Regions from separate parts of the Homo sapiens genome. Here regions 1, 2 and 3 are each linked to region 4. Evidence: fine-mapped expression QTL. A gene starts in region 4. Each other region holds a variant in brackets. All regions are shown on one strand. Distances are between the middles of the regions. Region 1 overlaps RECQL (RecQ like helicase). Region 2 overlaps GYS2 (glycogen synthase 2). Region 3 overlaps PYROXD1 (pyridine nucleotide-disulphide oxidoreductase domain 1). Region 4 holds the start of RECQL (RecQ like helicase).

Region 1 (2,500 bases), 25 kb after region 4:
ACTGCAACAAATCACGTTTTGACGGATGCTCAGAAAATTTTGTGCATTGAAAAGTGTTTTACTTTTACAGCTTCTTTTAATAGGCCAAATCTATATTATGAGGTATGTAATTTTTATGTCAATTCCTTACTTTTGTGAAGAATTACGCAGAGGGGATCTGCCTTTTTATTATGTTTATTTACATGAGCAGTTAAGTACTTACAAAAATTTTTAACATTAGGAGGTAATTATAAGTAGATTCTGTGATTAGGGCTTCATTCATGTATCTTTTGCTACATAAACCTTTGTTAGATTAAATGGAAGACACCTGCTAGGTGATACTTTTTATAAAACATATGAGTAAGTCATATATCTTTGTTAAATTTCTGTATGTTCTTTTTTGTATAAAGATGGAGAGAAAGGATGGAGTGATACTAAGGACCCTAATAACATCTCTGTTCAAATTAATTACTAAGTGATAGAAGTATTCATATGCCATTAAAGATTTGCCAATTCTATTTGAATTTTATTTGATAAACTTGAAAATCAAATAACCTAACAGCTGTCTTTTCTTTCTTTCTAAACCCTTTTAAGAATAGATTTAATATTTTTCTGAGTTTTCATTAAAGAGTTATTTATGTTACGGTTTGTTTTTATAAAAGTAGCATCGCAAAATAAAAAAGTCTGCATCCTTGCAAGTTATTCACTGCTCATGTGCTTGCTCTTCTCTGGTAAATTAAAAAAATAAAGATCAAGAAGAGTCTGGGAGGAGGAACAGATGAGTCAGATGGGTTGAATCCTGTGAGTAAGTGAAAGAGTAATAGGAAAAAAAACACTATGGTCATGAAAGAACTGCATCCTGAAAGTTGTACATAGACAGCCACTTGGATGGTACTCATTCATTTACTTTTTAATAAGTTAAGTTTTTTTTAGGTTCGGCAGAAGCCCTCAAACACTGAAGATTTTATTGAGGATATTGTAAAGCTCATTAATGGGAGATACAAAGGGCAATCAGGTAATGTAAAAACAAACCAACTTTGGAGACAGAGATAACTTTCAAAAAGTGACTTCATATCATATTGATAATTATACTGATAACTGAATAACACCAAAAAAAATTAATGTATAGCAGAAGATACTTGAAAATACGTGATAAAATTAATTCACTTGATCTTAGAAATTGGGTGTGACATTTGCTTATGCCATAGATTATGAGTCGTCAAATTGCCTGATTTATTTTTGCTTATTTACACTTGCTTTAGAATAGACCTGATGACTTAATGTTAATTATCAACAGCACATATTTAGTATGTATCCACTGTGTACAAAATAGTGGATTAAGCAACTGATATTCTAAAGGGATAGAAAATATACTCCCTTACAGTAAAGGACACGTTAAAGCAATAAATAAATCCAGTAGTACATACTGAATAGATTAAGCACAGATCGAGTTGTGAGTATATATACATGGTTTTCTGGGTTTAATGACTAAGCAAATGTTACTGAAGCAAAGAATTTGTGTGAAAGTAGCATTTTAAACTGTTCT[A/G]TAGATTTTCAGGAGGTAGTCCTGGGTAAAAGGAGTTCTAGGGTCAAATGAATTTGAGAAAGGTTGCAGGTATTTATTCTGCCTGGATGTTCACAGGGTGTATCAGCAAACTAGAAGCTCTGACCATCCCTGAAAATAAAGAGAGACACCCATTTAACTTTGTTGAATGCAATGTTCTCCAAATTAATTTGCATGCAAATTAATCTAAATTAACCCAAAATTAATCTGGAGAACACTGCATTCATAGCACATTTGTTAGCATCTTACAGACATCAGTTTGAGAAATACTGTTTAGTGGGAGATAAAGTTAAAGAGAGAAAAGAGATAACAGGAACAAAAACTGATGGCTCAGGCTCATTTCTGCTTTAAAGGAAGCTGGTGCTCAAATCTGGAATTATACCAAAATGTCAATATATGCACAAGGCCTTGAAATTTTTCATAATTCTTTTTTTCCTTCTGTGCATTGTATTAATCAATGTCCTGAATGTGTGTGTTGAAAACCATCTTCCAGGAATATGCCATATCTATCTAACAAATGCACATATTTTACTGCAGGAATCATATATTGTTTTTCTCAGAAAGACTCTGAACAAGTTACGGTTAGTTTGCAGAATCTGGGAATTCATGCAGGTGCTTACCATGCCAATTTGGAGCCAGAAGATAAGACCACAGTTCATAGAAAATGGTCAGCCAATGAAATTCAGGTTAGGTCTATATCTTCCATAGAAGCCTAATTTACCTTTAAAATATTTAAACTTGATTTAATTAACTGATAAAATGTTAAAATATTTCAGGTAGTAGTGGCAACTGTTGCATTTGGTATGGGAATTGATAAGCCAGATGTGAGGTTTGTTATCCATCATTCAATGAGTAAATCCATGGAAAATTATTACCAAGAGAGTGGACGTGCAGGTATGTAGGACTCAAATCCAGAAGTAAATTTTTAGAAAGCTTTTCCAAAAAATACATGATAAA
Region 2 (2,500 bases), 59 kb before region 4:
ATGCCTTCAGTAGCTTTCCCTAATAAAATGTCAGGCCCTAGAGGGCCGAGGCTGCATACTAGACGGTAAAGTGCCCCACACTCTGGAGCTAGTCAGTCATTTCCAGAACACATAAACCTTCATAGAGGTTCATGATTTTAAGTGAGTTTATGCTTTCATTCTTACAGCTTCTTAACAAGTCATTTCCTTTTGAGAGATGCTAAGCCAGCAGTTTAAATGTCAGCTTTGGCACTAACCTGTTATAGGACTCAGAGAAAATATTTAACCTCTCATTCCTTTCTTTTGACATTAATAAAATGAGGAGAGAAATGCCTATTGTACATGATTATTAGTAGTATATTTAAAGCACCCAGCACAGTGTCTGCTATCCCAAAAGTGCTCGTCATGTGCTTGTTTCTTTGCTTTAGGGCTAAAAACCAAAATACAACATCATGAGAATCAAGACATTTAGCGGAAAAGTAAAAATAATCTATCTGTCATCAATCAACATGAATAAGCAAAAAAATTGAAATATTATTTTAGCTTTTACCAAAGCTTAAATCTTCATTAAACTTCCAATCTGAAATTTTAAAGAACTAATTTTGGTCTTGTAATATTAGCTCTCATTCATGCTATTTTTTTAACCACAGAAAAGCACAGTGTCATCAATAGCAATTGTTATCTATTCTAGATGGTCAAAGGCACGAAAATATTTTGTTTGAATTTTCAAATTGTTAACTGACAAATACTGATTGAAAGTCAATTTGTTTATTGGCAAGTACAGACTGAAAATTTAAAATTTATTTTGATTTTAATTAAAATTTCTGAAAAAGTCTCAGGAAGGTGAATATAATCTCTCTGTGAAACATAAATAACTATACCTTTTATCTACTGATATTTTAAAACTCTACTTTTCAATGTTTAAGTTCCATCTATCATACTTTTTAAAAATCTTTGATAGTTGACTCTGTGTTTTCTAATTCCTCATCAGATGCATAAAAGTGACATCACAGTGATGGTGTTTTTCATTATGCCTGCCAAGACAAATAATTTCAACGTGGAAACCCTGAAAGGACAAGCAGTGCGAAAACAGCTGTGGTAATCTCACA[A/T]CCTGTGAATGTTCTCTAGCAATAAATGTGAAAAGATTTCTTTTAAGTGAATGACATCTCATGTATCGCCTTGAACTTTGTTTTTTCCTTAAGATTATTACAGACAAATAATACTTGACTCTCTTTTCATCGTGCTACTATTTTAGGTTATCGTAATGGTTATAACATTATAGGTGTTATACAAATTTTGGAATGAGCTACCATTGAAGGAACAAGGCCCTGTAGAAATCTTTAAAGATGAGTCAAACATTTTTTAACTTTCTATTGTGAAATTCTAAGAACATGTCAAGTAAAAAGCTTAGTAATATGACTCCCTGTATACTCATAGTTCAGATTCAACAATGATCAACGAATTCCCGTCTTGTTACACCTATACCTTCATCTACTCCCCCTCTCTGCTCTCTATCCTGTTCCAATCATCATGAAGCAAAAAAATTTTAAGCTCTTTGTGCTGGCCATGGTGTTCTGTTGCCTCAGCTCTGGAGATGTCAACTTAAGCTGAATTGGCAAGTAGTAAAATAATAGAAGAGACTATAAAAAAGATACCTGTAATTTCAAAGAATGTAATTTCAAAGAATGTCAACAAAACAATAGCATTATCGTGACAAATAAAGATTAAACATTGTCATACTGTTTAAATGATAAATCTTTCTGTTTCAAACAGGGATGTTGCACATTCTGTGAAGGAAAAGTTTGGAAAAAAACTCTATGATGCATTATTAAGGTAGGTGCTTGAAATGCTTTCTACTTCAATCACTTAAGGTTTCACTATTCAAATTTAACAATTTAGACATCATAACTTATTAATTTTGTTCCAAATATCAAGGAATTAATAACCTTTGAAAATGTGTTATGTCATGTGAACAGTATTTTACCCTTCATTTGACAAAACTTGTAAATAGCTGTACAAATAAGAATACATTTATATGCAGGCAAGTTCTAATTCAATGATGAACTCATTAAGGGTTGATATGTCAGTCTGAAGCTGAGAGAGACTTCATGAGATTTTAATTCAAAATATATATTGACAATGTGTATTAAATATGTACTTAAATATTAAGTCTATGTGAACACATTTACTTAATAGAATAATCAACATTATTTATTAAAATACATGAAATATATAATATATAATCTGATGCTTAGGAATCACTGAATTAGTGCCAGCTGTTTTTATTTTTGTTATTAACATTTTTTCCCTGCAGAGGAGAAATTCCTGACCTGAACGATATTTTAGATCGAGATGATCTAACAATTATGAAAAGAGCCATCTTTTCAACTCAGGTAATAAGGAAAAAAGCACCCACTATGTCCCATAGTTATTAAATTCTATCTAATCAGTATTTTAATTTATTGGAATGTGCTAATTTGGAACATTTTCAGACCTGAGGCTAGAAAAGACATTCTTACAT
Region 3 (2,500 bases), 47 kb after region 4:
TTCTATATGGTTTTAAAAAAGTTTTGTATGAGAATTAATGAGCTAGGTGCTACACTTACCTTCAGTTGTATATCTGGTTCTTTTATGTGCAATTTTAGCCTCTGATTTTTCAGCAATGAGCTTTGAAGTCAAGAATTCAGCTGCTCCTGCATCGAAGAAAGTATTCCCTATAGCTTTATCTTTAATGGCCCAAATCACTTCACAGCCTTCAATTTCATACCTAAAAACAATGTTAAAGTTACTAAGAGTGATTTCAAAAGTCTAAGTAAAAAATCTTTGCATTTGCAAATAATGATCTCCTGAAGCAAAAGTAGGGAATACATTTTTAAGGCTAACTGGGAAAGATTGATTATAAAGAGGAATATTAACGTTCTTTACAGATGTTAAGAATTAAAAATTGAATAGTAAAAGAATCTGAAGCAGTTTACAGAAAGAACCTTTAAGTGACAAATACATGTACTGAATATCAAGTAAAATTTCATTACAGTGTACATCATTAGAAAATGTTCAATTTCTACAATACACTTATTATATGAATGGCCCCCAGGGGTAAGCAGTGCTTTTTAAAAAATCTGGTTATAGTGTAATCAAGTAATGGATGGATGGCACATAGCTATAATATTGAGAATCAGTCACTTATTTGGTAACAACTTTTTATATCTTCAAAGCACATTACGGAAAGGGATAGAAAATGGAAAGAATCAGAGTTATAAGCTAAAAATCTTAAGGATCAAGATCAAGGATCAAGGATCTTAGAGGAAGGAAAGAATGAAAATGGTATATATAAGCCACCTTCTATTACTATTTACCACTAATGTAAGGTAATGGGCATGTGATATTTTATTCTAGGTTTAGATGCTAAGAAGTGGTTTTCCTAACAATATTCCTTTCACAAAGTCCCTGAAGTCCATTATAATTAAGGTGATCACATAATTTATCACCTAACCTGGGATACTATCTGCTACTAATAATCATTTTTGGTACAACTGGTGGAAATGGAGACAATCCCAGACAAACAAGATATATGGCCATCCTAACTATAATAGGATTTTATCTAAACTTGCGATACTAATAAAATACTGTAAAAAGTTAAGGTATTAATTTTTCACATTTCTTTACGGTACAAAGTATTGTCATCTTTATTTCACAGACTGATATAACATAGGTTACACGACTTTTCAAGACTAATCAATAAACAGATTACGAAAAAAGGTTTAGTACATCTGAATCCAGGTCACTTGATATTCATACTTTTCAACATATGGTGATAAGGAACTCCTTGCTTTACCTAATAAGTCTTCGTTTTTCCAGCTCTTCTATGTCAGTAAACA[TAG/G]AAGATTATTGGGTGAACATTCTATTTTATGTTACTCTGGTCATATAGCATTACTGACCAGCGGAAAGTGGAATACACACAAATTTGGTAATAAAGTTTGTATTTCAATTTACATACAGGCATACAGTTATCATGTAATGCTTTCTTTTTGAAAAACTGGGAATTTCTCTATATTACCATTTTTAAATTTAAAGTAATATTACACTATAACACCTATCAGTGCACTTCAGCATACTGATGACTGACTAGCAGACAAAGTTATTACAAGTAACCACAAGAAACTTCAGTACTTGCTCTACCTCCTAGGACACCTTCTAATCCTCTTTTCCTGACTTGAACTATGTTCTCAGCAAGATGCACAGTTTGACGATTATCATCACACAGAGGGGAAATACTGCTTTCATTTTGAAAATGACTCTACAGAAGCAGACAATGAGATATTACGGTTTTGTGAAGTTATGAAAAACAGTATCTGTTTGAAAAGGAAAGGATTAACTTACACTTAGAAAGGAGAAAACAGATAATAACTGAAATAAATGTATAATGAAGAACATTAGTATTAGTTTCACTGAAACACAGTGTAGAAAGGGTATGGGTATGCCAAGTTTCACGAGAGACAAAGACCTAATCACGCAGCAGACCTCAAGTCAGAGAATAACATTATGTGGGTCCATTTTTAATTACCAAAGAAGAGCTTACTAAATACAAAACTATGAGTTTTATCCAATTATACAGTCTTCAATCTCCAACTTAAAGAAAATGATGAATAGGATTAAATGTAAGACTCTGAACATTTTTGAACATAAAATTTTTAAATGTAAATAACAATTATAATAATAGTAAGTGATACTTTGGTGAGAGCTGATAGAGAAAATCTGGCATGTATATACTATACACAAGGATTTGAAGCCCCATTTACAATAAATCTATACCTCTTCCCTCTTGGCCCACATTTTGGTTTTGACCCTTTCTCTGTATTTCTCCATATAATGCCACAAACTTCATAATAACAATAATGACTGTTACCCATAGTACTCAGGCAATTTAAGAACTCTTACAGGCTTCCACTGGGTGAGATCATCCGCTAAAAGAGGGGCAAAAACCTAGTCTGAGAGTTGGATTGAATGCAAGTGAGCAAAGATATGGCTTTGGCAGAGTCCTTATTTT
Region 4 (2,770 bases):
GAGACTCTTATGAACATCAAAATATGAGGTACAGAGCTTGGGCAGACATAAATACAAAAATTATTAATATTAACAAAAAGCAGTAGGAAAGTGGAAATATTATAATGAAAGAAAAGGAAACCGATATCAATGCTAGCTTTAGAGATGAAATAGGCCTGGAGAACTCTGTGGCAGGCAGAGAGCGATGCTAAAATAATAAAACAAGCCACAAAGCACAATATACAATACTAACGAAATATATCCTTTAATGGCACACAAAGTGGCTTTTCTCTACTGCTTGAAACTTTAGCAGGTAGAAAAGTGAGAATGTTTCAAGAGACTTCTAAAAGGTTGCTTACAGTACTGGCAAAAAGCGAATATTCAAAATGCCACATTTAAGCGTAAGGACATTTTCAAAAAGAGCCTACTGTAGGTGACATTTAAAATACCGCCTCCCAAATAACCAGCCAGCCAGGGACTTGTAGAGGACCCGAAGTGTGTCATGCGCATAAACGATCCCGAGAGTGGGCCGCGGGCACCACGCAAACTTTCTCTTGTGGCAAGCCCCTAGAACAAAGCGCCCATCTCACTGGGGATGAGGAGATCAGCGCGACCCTGGAATGAGACAGACTCTGGGCTAAAGCTCCCCTCCCAACATAGGGCGTCCCACCCTGCCCCACAGACTCTTCTCCCAGGTCAGGTCCGCCAGTCCAAGTCTAGCCCCGGCATCCCGAAGGCAGCCCCTTAGGGTCCCAGCAGCCCTAGCTCTGTCTCGCAGGCCACCGCCCCCAACCCAGAGCTTCATTCATTGACCCCGGCGGAGGGGCGAGACCCAGCCGGGCGATGGGTGTGCGCGGCTCGAGGCGGGGGCCCCGGAGCAGGTGCTTACTCTGCGTGTCCGTTAAGGAGATCATGGCTGCAGTGGTGGGGACAGCGGCGACAGCACCTCGGAAAGCCCAGGGTGGGAAGCTGAGTCGGGAGAAATGAAGCCGGGAAACAGCCCAGGCGAGAGCCGCCACGTCTTCCGGAAACACGCAGCCACCCTCACTGCCGCTTTAAGAGCGCTTCCTATTGGCGAAACCTGCTTCCAATCTCAACCAATAACTCGTAATGTTGTTCGGTGACGCGCATGGTGACCACACCCCTTGACCAATTAGAGAAGGGAGTTATCTGTGATTGGCTGAACGGACCGACCCGGAAGGGTGGATGCTCTCAGCTGGCTGGCGGGAAGATTTTACTCCCGAGTAGCGGAAAGATCTGCTCGAGGCCTGGGTGCTTTGGTGTCGGAGATCCGAGAGTCGGAGATCGGAGAGTCGGACACAGGACAGTCGGACACCGGACAGTCAAACACCGGAGAGTTAGACCGGGCTTCTCGGTGGGGAGAGGCTCTGGGATAACTACTGTTACAGCTTTGAAGGGTCAAGGGTGTGCGCTTTTTGTTTCATCCTTCCCTTTCCTGCTGCAGGGCGAGGCCGGTCTGTAGCGGATCACTTCCTTTCGCCCACACATTGGCGGAGGAGAAACCGGAAAGTTAATCACTGCCCTGCTCTGAGAACTCGGGCCTTTAGGGGCACGTTCGCCTGCTGACCGGTCTTCTGATCTCCCCATTCTTTTCCATGCAGGAGGATTGGCCACCAAAGCCTGTTTATTAGCAGCTGCCATTTGTTGGTAAATACTACTGGGGATGCTTCTTCCACCCCCTGCTTCACAGTAGCGGAAGGGCGGGCGTTATTAATATTAAATTACTATTGCCTCTAAATGCAGGTGGCGGGGAGAGAGAGGATTTAGCCTATGGTATCTCAGTGGCGTTTCCTCCAACATTGATGACTGGCTGTCACCCTGTAACATTCTTCCTGTGGATGCCTAGCTTATACTGCTGAGTGACAGACCTGCTGTAGTTCAATTTCTGGATACATTTTATGTTGAGATATCTTTTGCTGTTAAATCACATCATTTTGGGAAGGAGCAGTCTTTTAACCGCATAATCAAAGGAGTCATTTAAAATCGTGGGGGAGAATTGGATATAGACTGTGTCTTTTCATAAGGGTAGAAACAGCCCCTGCTACCTTAGCAAACCTGAGCCCTCACTACATCAAGGCATTTTCCTGGGCTGTGCGGATACAAAGGTGAAGAGATTGAACCCCAGCCCTGCTAAAGGACCTTACAGTCTATGGAAGGAATGTTACATTTTCATTACGTGAAGAGATGTTTGTATAGATCAAGAATTAGAAATCCTTGGTTTACTCTCCTATTTAGCCTTCTTTTAATGGTGTGGTTATTCCACATTCTTTAGCAAGGCAAAAAAGAGTCAGCCTATCTTTCCGGCCTAGTGGTGGCTTCAGAATTCTGTGTAGAAAGGGCGTAAGGTCAGCAGTCTAAGGATAGGTGTTGCAGAAGTGACTTTTGGAGAGCATCTTAGTTTTAGAAAATGTCCATATTAGAGAGATAGAAGAGGTGTTTTTAGGATTATGGGGAATTTAAAGTTTCTACTCTCCAGCCCCATTTTCCACTTGTCCATATGCATGCTTAGGTTTTAGTCATTCATAGATACTTAGAAATCATTACAAACCATTTTCCCCTCCCCCCACCTCTAACTTAGAAAATCTAGCTTTTCTGTAGAATACCAGTTTCTCTTTTAAGATTGGGCTTATATTGTAATTCTTTAACGCAAGGGCTCAATAAAATGTTAGATGATTAATTTTATTATTTATGTTGATGTATTTTGCTTAATCTGGTACATTTGAATCTATCCAACTTATTTATAAGATTGCCATCCTCCCAGTTTTACAGG

The links. PIP is the estimated chance that this variant, and not a neighbour inherited with it, causes the effect.
Region 1: its variant is the best candidate, but not a certain one, in a credible set for the expression of RECQL in lung (TOPMed, PIP 0.74).
Region 2: its variant is the best candidate, but not a certain one, in a credible set for the expression of RECQL in pancreas (GTEx, PIP 0.53).
Region 3: its variant is the best candidate, but not a certain one, in a credible set for the expression of RECQL in whole blood (INTERVAL, PIP 0.69).

What each region holds. Positions count from the first base shown.
Region 1 is chr12:21,475,405-21,477,904 of GRCh38, reverse strand. It overlaps RECQL (RecQ like helicase), which reads left to right. Exons shown (of 15, transcript NM_002907.4): 7 at 1-102; 8 at 913-994; 9 at 2,081-2,229; 10 at 2,320-2,437. Among named protein-coding and RNA genes, the nearest start is that of RECQL, 25 kb to the left of the region's middle. The variant A/G (reference allele first, on the strand shown) is at 1,526.
Region 2 is chr12:21,558,963-21,561,462 of GRCh38, reverse strand. It overlaps GYS2 (glycogen synthase 2), which reads left to right. Exons shown (of 16, transcript NM_021957.4): 8 at 971-1,077; 9 at 1,753-1,812; 10 at 2,294-2,372. Among named protein-coding and RNA genes, the nearest start is that of SPX, 34 kb to the right of the region's middle. RefSeq lists an enhancer at 2,340-2,500. The variant A/T (reference allele first, on the strand shown) is at 1,089.
Region 3 is chr12:21,452,852-21,455,351 of GRCh38, reverse strand. PYROXD1 (pyridine nucleotide-disulphide oxidoreductase domain 1) reads right to left here. Exons shown (of 12, transcript NM_024854.5): 6 at 60-220. Among named protein-coding and RNA genes, the nearest start is that of PYROXD1, 16 kb to the right of the region's middle. The variant TAG/G (reference allele first, on the strand shown) is at 1,332.
Region 4 is chr12:21,500,047-21,502,816 of GRCh38, reverse strand. It overlaps RECQL (RecQ like helicase), which reads left to right and starts at 1,182. Exons shown (of 15, transcript NM_002907.4): 1 at 1,182-1,647. It overlaps GOLT1B (golgi transport 1B), which reads right to left and starts at 1,028. Exons shown (of 5, transcript NM_016072.5): 1 at 869-1,028. The coding sequence starts at 893. RefSeq lists enhancers at 1-670, 671-1,378, 1,329-1,388, 1,529-1,718, 1,759-1,808 and 1 more.